Homo sapiens: one gene and its partner. The protein of the gene in region 1 interacts with the protein of each later gene in a biochemical or structural test. Each region holds a gene or a part of one and is shown on either strand. Other genes may lie near its edges.

What was found.
Region 2: the proteins of KIFAP3 (region 1) and RAP1GDS1 form a complex in vitro, tested with the Homo sapiens proteins (one study listed by BioGRID).

Annotation. Positions count from the first base shown.
Region 1 is NC_000001.11:169,920,810-169,924,995, reverse strand, and holds the end of KIFAP3 (kinesin-associated protein 3), read left to right. Parts: intron 1-1,893; coding exon of another isoform or gene 1,894-1,930; intron 1,931-3,214; coding exon 3,215-3,320; 3' UTR 3,321-3,667; downstream 3,668-4,186. UniProt on the Homo sapiens protein: Involved in tethering the chromosomes to the spindle pole and in chromosome movement. Binds to the tail domain of the KIF3A/KIF3B heterodimer to form a heterotrimeric KIF3 complex and may regulate the membrane binding of this complex.
Region 2 is NC_000004.12:98,439,109-98,444,402, reverse strand, and holds the end of RAP1GDS1 (rap1 GTPase-GDP dissociation stimulator 1), read right to left. Parts: intron 2,414-5,294; coding exon 2,286-2,413; 3' UTR 545-2,285; downstream 1-544. UniProt on the Homo sapiens protein: Acts as a GEF (guanine nucleotide exchange factor) for the Rho family of small GTP-binding proteins (G proteins) that stimulates the dissociation of GDP to enable subsequent binding of GTP.

The DNA of each region.
Region 1 (4,186 bases):
CAAGAGCAGATGTGGCATGTCACAGCTTACTTTTCCTTGCTTCTCAGGGCCCCTAGTGAGGGCATACAAATTCCTGTGATACACACTATTGAAGTCAAGTCTTTCCAGATCAGGAAAGCACAATTTTTCCTGCAACGTTGCCTTTTTATATTCATAGTTTCTATCTCTTTCAAGAACTTACATGAAGAATCTATCTGCTTCTGTTTAAAGGAAAACTCTCCGGGTTTTGAACTAAACTCAGCATTAGCAAGGCTGTATCCTTTTCCCAAGGAAAAAAGTAAAGTGTCTACATATTCCAAAAGAATGTCTCCAGGTTTTAGCATCCTAGAAAGCCTGATTTCCCCCACTATATTAGAAAGAAGCAAATGAGAGTTTAAAGAAACAAACTGTTATGTTTCACAGTGAATTTAATTAAAAATGTATGTAGATATAGTTGATTTTTCATAATACAAAAGGACCTAGGACCTATGTCAAAGTACTCTCCAAACTGATCATAAATGTTTTAAATATTTTTTGCTTTAAACAGCAAGTTCATCTGTGATACATAATGGAGAATTCCAGAAAAGATCATTTTAGAGTTTGGTTTCAAATTTTATTCCTTTTTTCCAAAACGATATTTGTATATAGAAATTCGAAAAATTAAATGATATCCTCTACACTGTAATACACACAGATGTCTCTGGGTGAACTGCTGACTACATAAATAGATCTTTACCATAGTAACCTAAAGACCATACTGTTCAAGACCAGAGATTTACAGGTTCAGAAACTCAGACTCATCAGTGCTCAAGGGCCAGTCTTTCACTGACTTGGGACTGCAGGTTTTTATCAACAATGTGCATGACATATTTTAAAAAGAAAAATCCATTTGTTAATGTACAATGAAAGTTATAACCATCAGGTGGATTAGGTAATATCTAAGTTTATTATTTAACCTGTTGGCAAATTACATGGGAAATTACAGTGATCAATAGTTTGCCTATTAGTCGTAGAAATAAAAAAAAGGGGGAGAATTTTGCAACTTGAATGTAGAATGGCCTCAGACTCTGAGAATGTTAAATTCCCTTCCTGATTGAGGACCAAACTGCAAAAAGGCCAGATATTCCTTATGGTGTTATAGCTTACCAGATCACCACGCAATTGCCTAGGTTGCTACAACCAGCGTTGTAGCTGAGACGCTCCTTGTTCTGTGCCAATGACTGGTGAACTCCCTTCTGAGGACCATCTTCTTTTAGGTAGAATTACAGTGATATTGCTAACAAGTCGTCTGTGAGATACTCTGAAGGTGCCTTTGCATGTTTCCTCACTGTCCCACATATGCCTCTTGTTTTCATATTACTGAAATAGATCTTGCCATAGCCCCTAGATTGAGAAACAAGCATAAGATTAACTTGAGTTTAACCTAAGTCTACTGCTATTTGGCCTCAGAGGAGTTGCTAAAAAAGATAAGGACTGGTTGAAGACAGGTAATAAGCAAAAGATGAAGAAGGAACAAGTTGAAATCCAAGCTATGTAATCAACAGTTATATAATTGAGAGTTCTTTAGATACATGATTACTTGTTAGCCTTAGTGCTTGCAGAGAACAGTTTTCAATAACTTCTCTAATTTTAAGCTGATACCAGTGTCTCTTAGTTCACTGATTCCACTAATTTCTGAAGCATCTTTTAAGCTACCTCTTGATTTCCTCATCACAAAATTTAGTCTCTCTTCCCATGAGATCAAAGTTAGAAAAAGTGCCTATATTTTTACCATTTCAAAATAAAATGTAGACTTAAAAATTTCAACCAACTTTGAGAAACTATAGACAGAGTTTTTATATAGAAGGACCCCAAAACAACAAATTTTGTCCAGAATCGCTCAGTACAAATGCTAACCTGAAACTTGTATTTCAGAACTTCCATTCTCCTAAAGGGCAGAGTCACTGGACCAGTATGTGTTATATGTATTTTGGCTCTTTACATTTACTCTTTAGTTCCATCTTAATACACACAAGCACGCGTGCACACAAACACACACACGCATTCACACATTTATTTAAAACCTTAACATTTTAATAGTTACTTCTAAAGTGTGTCAACTTAATCTCACTCTGAGTGTGACAGGGAGTTAGTGCCTATGTGAATATATTTTTTCATCACATTCAGTTTTTGCTATTGAGGGAAAATTATCTTTCCATCTCATGTAGTGCAAACTTAAATCTTAAATCATTTAAATATGTTTTATTTTTCCAAAGCTTACATTTCTGCATTACAAATGGTGTCCATTGATTGGAAGTCAAGCTCACTAGCATTCACTGCATGAGCTATGCATGAGCATGTTAAGGCCACCATGTTCTGCCTGGCAAAATAAATACTTTATCATTTTCCTAAGTGTTGGATAATTCCCTGACCTTTAAAAAGGACTTTGGAGAACAGATTTTCCTCTAAATAATGTATTAATAGACCAACAAGTAATTTTTTTAAAATAATAATCATGAAGTTTAACATACTTCAAGCTATCTTTACAACTCTGAAGGTTATCTTTGGGTTTCTGTTATTCCCATAGAATAAGTTGAACCAAAATTTGTAATTGTCTTGCTGTCACTCAAAAGAAATAGATATGTTTTGTAATTGTTTGCATTGAGGAATCAGAGGAAGGATTTGCAGATCAAATCTGACTAATTTTCAAATTTTGTCAAATTCCTTATCTTGTTCTTTTAATCATAGGCTTATGGTATGATTTGGCCCTGCATGAGAGTTCACTGATATAACTCAAACACATGTTTTTACTAAAAGTGGAATTAGTCCTGTATCTTCATATGAAAAGACATTATAAACAGCAAAACTCACTTTACTACAGTTTTATTTTTATCATTCCCTAGCAATATATTACTGATCATTGCTAGCATGTAAAATCTTTTCATATTTTTGCTTAAGAGCCATATATAAGTAATTTATTAAATAAAACTTTTCTGATTTGATTCTTCCACTTTGTTTCAAATAGTACCTACTGACAGAGGTTTCCCATACTTTTAACACACATTGTTAGAAGTATTTTATTATATACACTTTTAATGGCTCTATTAACCTTAAAAAAAAAAGTTAATGATATCCACCTAAATCACTATCCCTGCTAGGAAGAGAATCTTGGTGGTATAAAAATGTAGGCCTCTTAATCTGCATTGTGGATGTGTGATGAAAAACATAGCTTATCATTCTTTTTTTTCTTTTTTAGCCTTGGAATGGATGGCTTTGGCCAACCAGTTGGCATTCTTGGACGCCCTGCCACAGCATATGGATTCCGCCCTGATGAACCTTACTACTATGGCTATGGATCTTGATAAAGTATCTGTTTCCATGTGTAATCTCAGCTTAGAAGAAATCTGTGTGGGTTGGGTTAATTTTGGATCTTTGCCTAATAATGCATGTTGATGTTATTGTGGGTCTGTGTTTGTTTTTATTTTTATATGTTGTTAGCTGCAGATTAACCCCAGCCCCTCTGTCTTCTGTTAAGTACAGTTGATACTGACATTGTTCACTCATCAAACCACATCTTGATGCTAAGTAACATTTCCCATGAGCCACAAAACTGAATGCTGAAAAGCTACTAGACTGGAAAACAAACACTGCATTATGTATGTTAAGTGACTAATTTAATTTCAATTAAAAAGCGTAAAGTGAAAATGAATAAGTGAAAGTCATGTGTTTATATTTCACACATTTCACTACGAATTACATGTTAATATAGGGTGCGCGTGAATTTTATTTTTTCTCCTTTTTTTCTGCTTGTAAACTCTTGAGTAATTTGTATAATATATGCTACCTTTAAAATTTATAAAAAGAACATCACCTTCATATTCCATGCCATGTGCCTGAAAGTTTCCTTCCCAAAGTTTATTAACTATGAGTTTTCAATTAATAATGGAACATATGTCATAAGTTATTTATGGTTATAGTCTCTTTGGTGGTTTTAATTCATATCTTCCTAGTTGTAATATAGAAATCCTAGGACAAGTAGTATACAAGACAAGCAGTGATACAAGATTAGCATTTGGCTTTTAACTTTTATTCTTCATAAATTTAGTATCTAAAGCATGGGAAAGCTAATTAAAAGTCGCATTAAGGAAAACTAAGGAACAGAATATTTCACTCACTTGGGTACCCAGTTCCCAATTGTTCACTTGTTCTTATAACGTACATTTAGATA
Region 2 (5,294 bases), on another chromosome or scaffold:
GTCTCCCTTAGAATGTACTCTTAGTGGGTAGCAAACTAACTTAATAAATAGTGGCCTCTAGGACTAAGATTTAGTAGCAGGAGATAAGCGAGAGTACAGTCTGTAGACTCTCCCATCCACTGCAATGGCACATCAGTGTACCATCTAATTTGGTAGCCCCTGTGATAAGGGCACAGCCTTCTGGTCTTTCCGTACAATGATGAGTACTTTGAATTGCACTTTATTTTGCTGGAGATGGGAGTTCCTAGCATATTAGCAAATTGATGGCTGGCAGCTGGCCTAGATGGTAACTTCTCTCACATTTACGATTTTAGGATGCTTTTGTTAAAATTTTTTCCCTAAAGTCAGACAAACTATCAAATCTCAAACTTTCTATCAGTCAGTCAGTCTATCTTTCTGGAATTAGTTCAGGCAGTCTGGAAACTTCATGGATGCAGGATTCATTCATTCAGTCAACAAATATTTGTTGAACATCAATAGCAAGCCTTATTCTAGGAGCTGGAAATAGAGACAAAATATACAAACAAACCAAATGATGCCATTATAGCTTCATATACTATTTATTAAGTTATTAATATGAACAGATATGCAACATTACAGATGTCTTTCAAAGCCTGTAATAAAATATAGTCCACTATCCAGCCCAGGAGAAAGACAACAAACAGTATCATTCTTATAGTAAGTGTAGCATACGTACTCACAATAGTTCCCTTATTTGGACATCAAAGGGAACAATCAGTCAAGATTCTTTACCTCCATTAGAATTTAACTTTCTTGGATTATAGCTGTTTTAGAGTCAAAAGTCCAACTTAGATTATCCACAGAGATGTGTAGCATCACATGTTGGAGAGGAAGGAGCTACTGTCACCTCCGTGGCAGCCCTTTCTACTGTCTTGCAGTCCTTCTATATCGAAGCCCATCTTGCCTTTTAGGCCAGTAGTGGTCAAATTTGGGTATGGGGAGAAGGCAGGTGGGTCACAGGGAGGTTTTGATTAATTTACAAAGATTGTGTTTCAAAGCTCTAAAAACCCATTTGGTGGTGGCAGTGGCAGTGAAGAGTACACTATATTTCGCCAAGGGGGTCTTCTCATCTCTTGAGTCTTGGCTTTCTCATATCCTTTAAAATTGCTGCAGTTCTCAGTGGGAAAGTGGAGGTGGCAAACTCTAACAGCGATTGGTATGGGGCCATCTGCAGAATGAACTGGACTGGCTACTATGGCTTTTATAACCTGCTTTCCTTTCTTTAGTCTAGACAAGCTTATTTCTTCATCTTTCCACCTACGTCCTGCTAGTTCTAACATAAGATTTAAAAGGACTATGGAAGATAAAACTTCTCACTTTCTAGCTGAATGATGAAAAACAGCAAAAAAAAAAAAAAAAAAAAAAATTCCATTCTTCAATGAACTATACTCAATTTCCTCAGTTGAAAACAAACAAGCGCCAAATGAATTTTAAAGACAAGTGCTGGATAATGCTGATTAACTGGTAGAAGTAGTTCCTGAGTGAAACAGCGTATGTATCAGAATCTAAAATACAAGCAAAACCCGAAATGCTCTGTAATAGGGATTGTAATAGTGATTCTTCAACCCCTTAGTTTCACACTGAAAACTACAAATGTTTTTCAATATCAGGCTATTGATAATAGTCAATTAAATATGGAATCAGAAACCTCAGAAAGTCTTGCCAAGTTTGTGGCAGTTTCAATAGTCTAAAAAGGAAAAAGGAGAAACCAGAAGTTAAAGAGTAAGAGCATTGGAATTTTATTTAACTCTAGGTACCATGGATTTGACATCAGTAGGAAAGACTAATGAATAAGCAGCCATACAACTTTTTTGGTCACTGTGCTTCCCAAGCACCAAAAAATGGAGCTATTTTTCCAATTCAGTTTCATCTTTAATAAGCTAGACAGATCCTGCTGCATTCTTTGTTTCTAGTTTACCAGTACATCATTATGTAGTTTACTGCATGTGTGGAGCAAGTCATTATGTAGTACCAAGTTTACATCATCATAGGACTACAACATGCACATTCTACTTAATGTAGCTCAAGCAACAGGAATACAAGAGAACGGTTATGGGTGGAGACTTGCCTTTGACAAAGTCATGATCACACTAACTATAGGTTTAGAAATCTTATTAGGGAGGTACCTACAGCGGTTCTTCAATTGGTATTAGAACATCACATGCATGCACAAGTGGTATGGTAGAGAATGAAGCGGAAGAAGCCGCTGGATGGAGGACAGAGGGGAAATTAGAGATGGGATGATGCCGTGTATCGGGCAGTTCTCAGCTTTCCACAGTAAGTCTCTGCTCTGTGAGAGAGGCCTGCTGGGCAACACTTTTGTTCTCATGACTGCGAAGTTTGGATACGACATCTAGAAAAGCCAAATCCTGTACTTCCTTGTGTAGACATTCTGGAAGACAAAAAAATAACAGATATGATTCTGTTAGGTTGTTCTAAGTCTATCCAAAACATATACCAAAATGTTTATTTTGACAAGACTAAGCTTATAAAACTAGAAACAATTCTGGAAAAAGACATAGCAGTAGCCTAGCAATGTCTTTCTTAGAAATGTATTATAATTTAAAAAAATCATAAAAACTTTACTTTTTTTTAAATTAAAGGAAAAAATTTTAAAGATGGGGACTTGCTCTGCTGCCCAGGTTTGAGTACAGTGGCATGGTCACAGCTTACTGCAGCCTCAAACTCCTAGCCTCAAGGGATTCATCCTGCTCAGTCTCCCAAGTAGCTGGGATGACAGTCATGAGCCACTGCACAGCTACTTGCCCAATTTTTAAAAAGAAAAACGAGACGTCAAGTTCTACAATGTAAGATTAATTACAATAATGAGTTATAATTAAACACAGCTCACTGTATGATCTCAAGGTTTGGTTACATACAACCCTATCACCAGTTCAAATATGAAGTCCAATGACTTACCAAAAAGCTTAGGATATGTTTCAAATTAATTTTGTGGCAAAAGAAAAGTTTATACTTCATATCCTTCAACAAATTTCTGTGACACTGGACTCCCTTTTAGATTTTTTGTCCTCTTCTTTCTGACTTGCTTTCTCTATTTAACTTCAATTACAAGAAAATATAGGATTCCTGTTAGGACTCTGAGAACTGTTATATGGGATGAGTGAAGTCTAATAAGCTTAATGTAATCAGTACTACTGAAACTGATGTGTTTATTTTGATATGACTGACATAAACCAATGAACCAGTGTTTTTAGTAGTAATAGAAAAATCCATCCTAAAATTCATATGGAATCTCAAGGGACCCTAAATCTCCAAAACAATCTTGAAAATGAACAAAGCTGGAGTTCTCATACTAACTGATATCAAAACTTACTACAAAGCTACAATAATCAAGATAGTGGGGTACTGGTACAAAATCCTACAACTTGGGCCAGGCGTGGTGGCTCACGCCTGTTATCCCAGCACTTTGGGAGGCCAAGGTGGGTGGATCACCTGAGGTCGGGAGTTTGAGACCAGCCTGACCAACATGGAGAAACCCCATCTCTACAGGTGGTGCATGCCTATAATCCCAGCTACTCAGGAGGCTGAGGCAGGAGAATCGCTTGAACCTGGGAGGTGGAAGTTACGGTGAGCCGAGATTGCACCATTGCACTGCAGCCTGGGCAACAAGTGCGAAACTCCGTCTCAAAAAAAACAAAACTCTTACAATTCAACAACAACAACAACAACACCCTTCAATTCTAAAAATGGGCAAAGACTTGAATAGACATTTCTCCAAAGAAGATATACAAATGGCCCACAAACACATAAAAAGATTCCCATCAGTAATCATTAGGGAAACGCAAATAAAAACCACAGTAAGATGCCACCTCACACTCATTAGTTTGGCCATTACTAAAACACAGCAAATATTGGTGAGGATGTTGAGAAATGATAATCCATGTGTACTGCTGGAAGAAATGTACAATGGTCCAGCCACTGTGAAAAAGAGTATGACAGTATTTAATTAGTAAAAACAGTATTTAATAAAAAAATTAAACATTGAATGACCATATGATCTAGTAATTCCACTTCTGAGTATATATCAAAAATAATTAAAAGCAGAGGCTCAGAGATATTTGCATACCAATGTTCACAGCAGCATTATTCACAAAAGCCAAAAGGTGGAAATGGCCCAAATGTCCATGGATTGATGAATGGATAAACAAAATGTGATATATACATATGATGGAAAATTATTCAGCTTTAAAAGGAAATGAAATTCTGACACGCCTACAATGCAGATAAGCCTTAAAGACCTAAGTAAAATAAGCTAGACAAAAAAGGACAGGAGTTTCTTATTCCACATATATGTGGTGACTAGAGTTGTCAGATGATGGAGACACAAAATAAATGGTGATTGCCAGAGGCTGTGGGGAGGGGTAAATGGGGAGTTATTGGTTAATGAGTACAGAGTTTCAGTTTGGGAAAATGAAGGTGGTTCTGGAGATGGATGCTGGTGATGATTGCACAGCAATGTGAATGTCCTTAATGCCATTAAACTGTATACTTAAAAATGGTTAAAACAGTAAATTTTATGTTTTGTATGTTTTACCACAATTCTAAAAATGCTTAAACAAATGGAAGAGACTCAAAGTCTCTGCAAGGAAATAAAAGATATAAAGAAGAAGCAAATGGAAATTTTTAACTAAAATATATAACTGAAATAAAAACAGGTTCAACATCAGAATAGAGGGGACAAGGGAAATAATCAGAGAACTTCCAAGATAAAACAATAGAAATTACTCAGTCTGTACAACAGAAAGAAAATAATCTGTGGGTAAAAAAGAACAAAACCTCAGGGACCTACAAGACTATAATTAAAGATCTCACATTAGTGTCAACAAAGGTCTGGAAAGAGTGGATAGAATGGGGCTGAAAAGTACCTGAAGAAGTAACAGTCAAAACTTCTCAAATTTAGCAAAAGACATAAACCTATCAATTCAAGAAGCTGAGCAAACTCAAACAGGATAAACCCAAAGAAATCCATGCCAAGACACATCATAGTTAAACTTCTGAATACTAAACGCAAAGAAAGTCTTGAGAGACAAAAATGAAACCTTACCTACAGGGGAATAAAACACATAAGAACACAATGGATTTCTCATCAGAAACCAGGGAGGCTAGAAAAAAGTGGCACAATAGTTTTCAAGTAAAGAAAGAAAAGAACTGTGAACCCAGAATCCTATACCCATTTTCTGTCATTTGACAATGTCATTTCCCTTTCATTATGAATGAAAAAAATTTTTTTTGGCTAAAAATCTGTTGCTAGC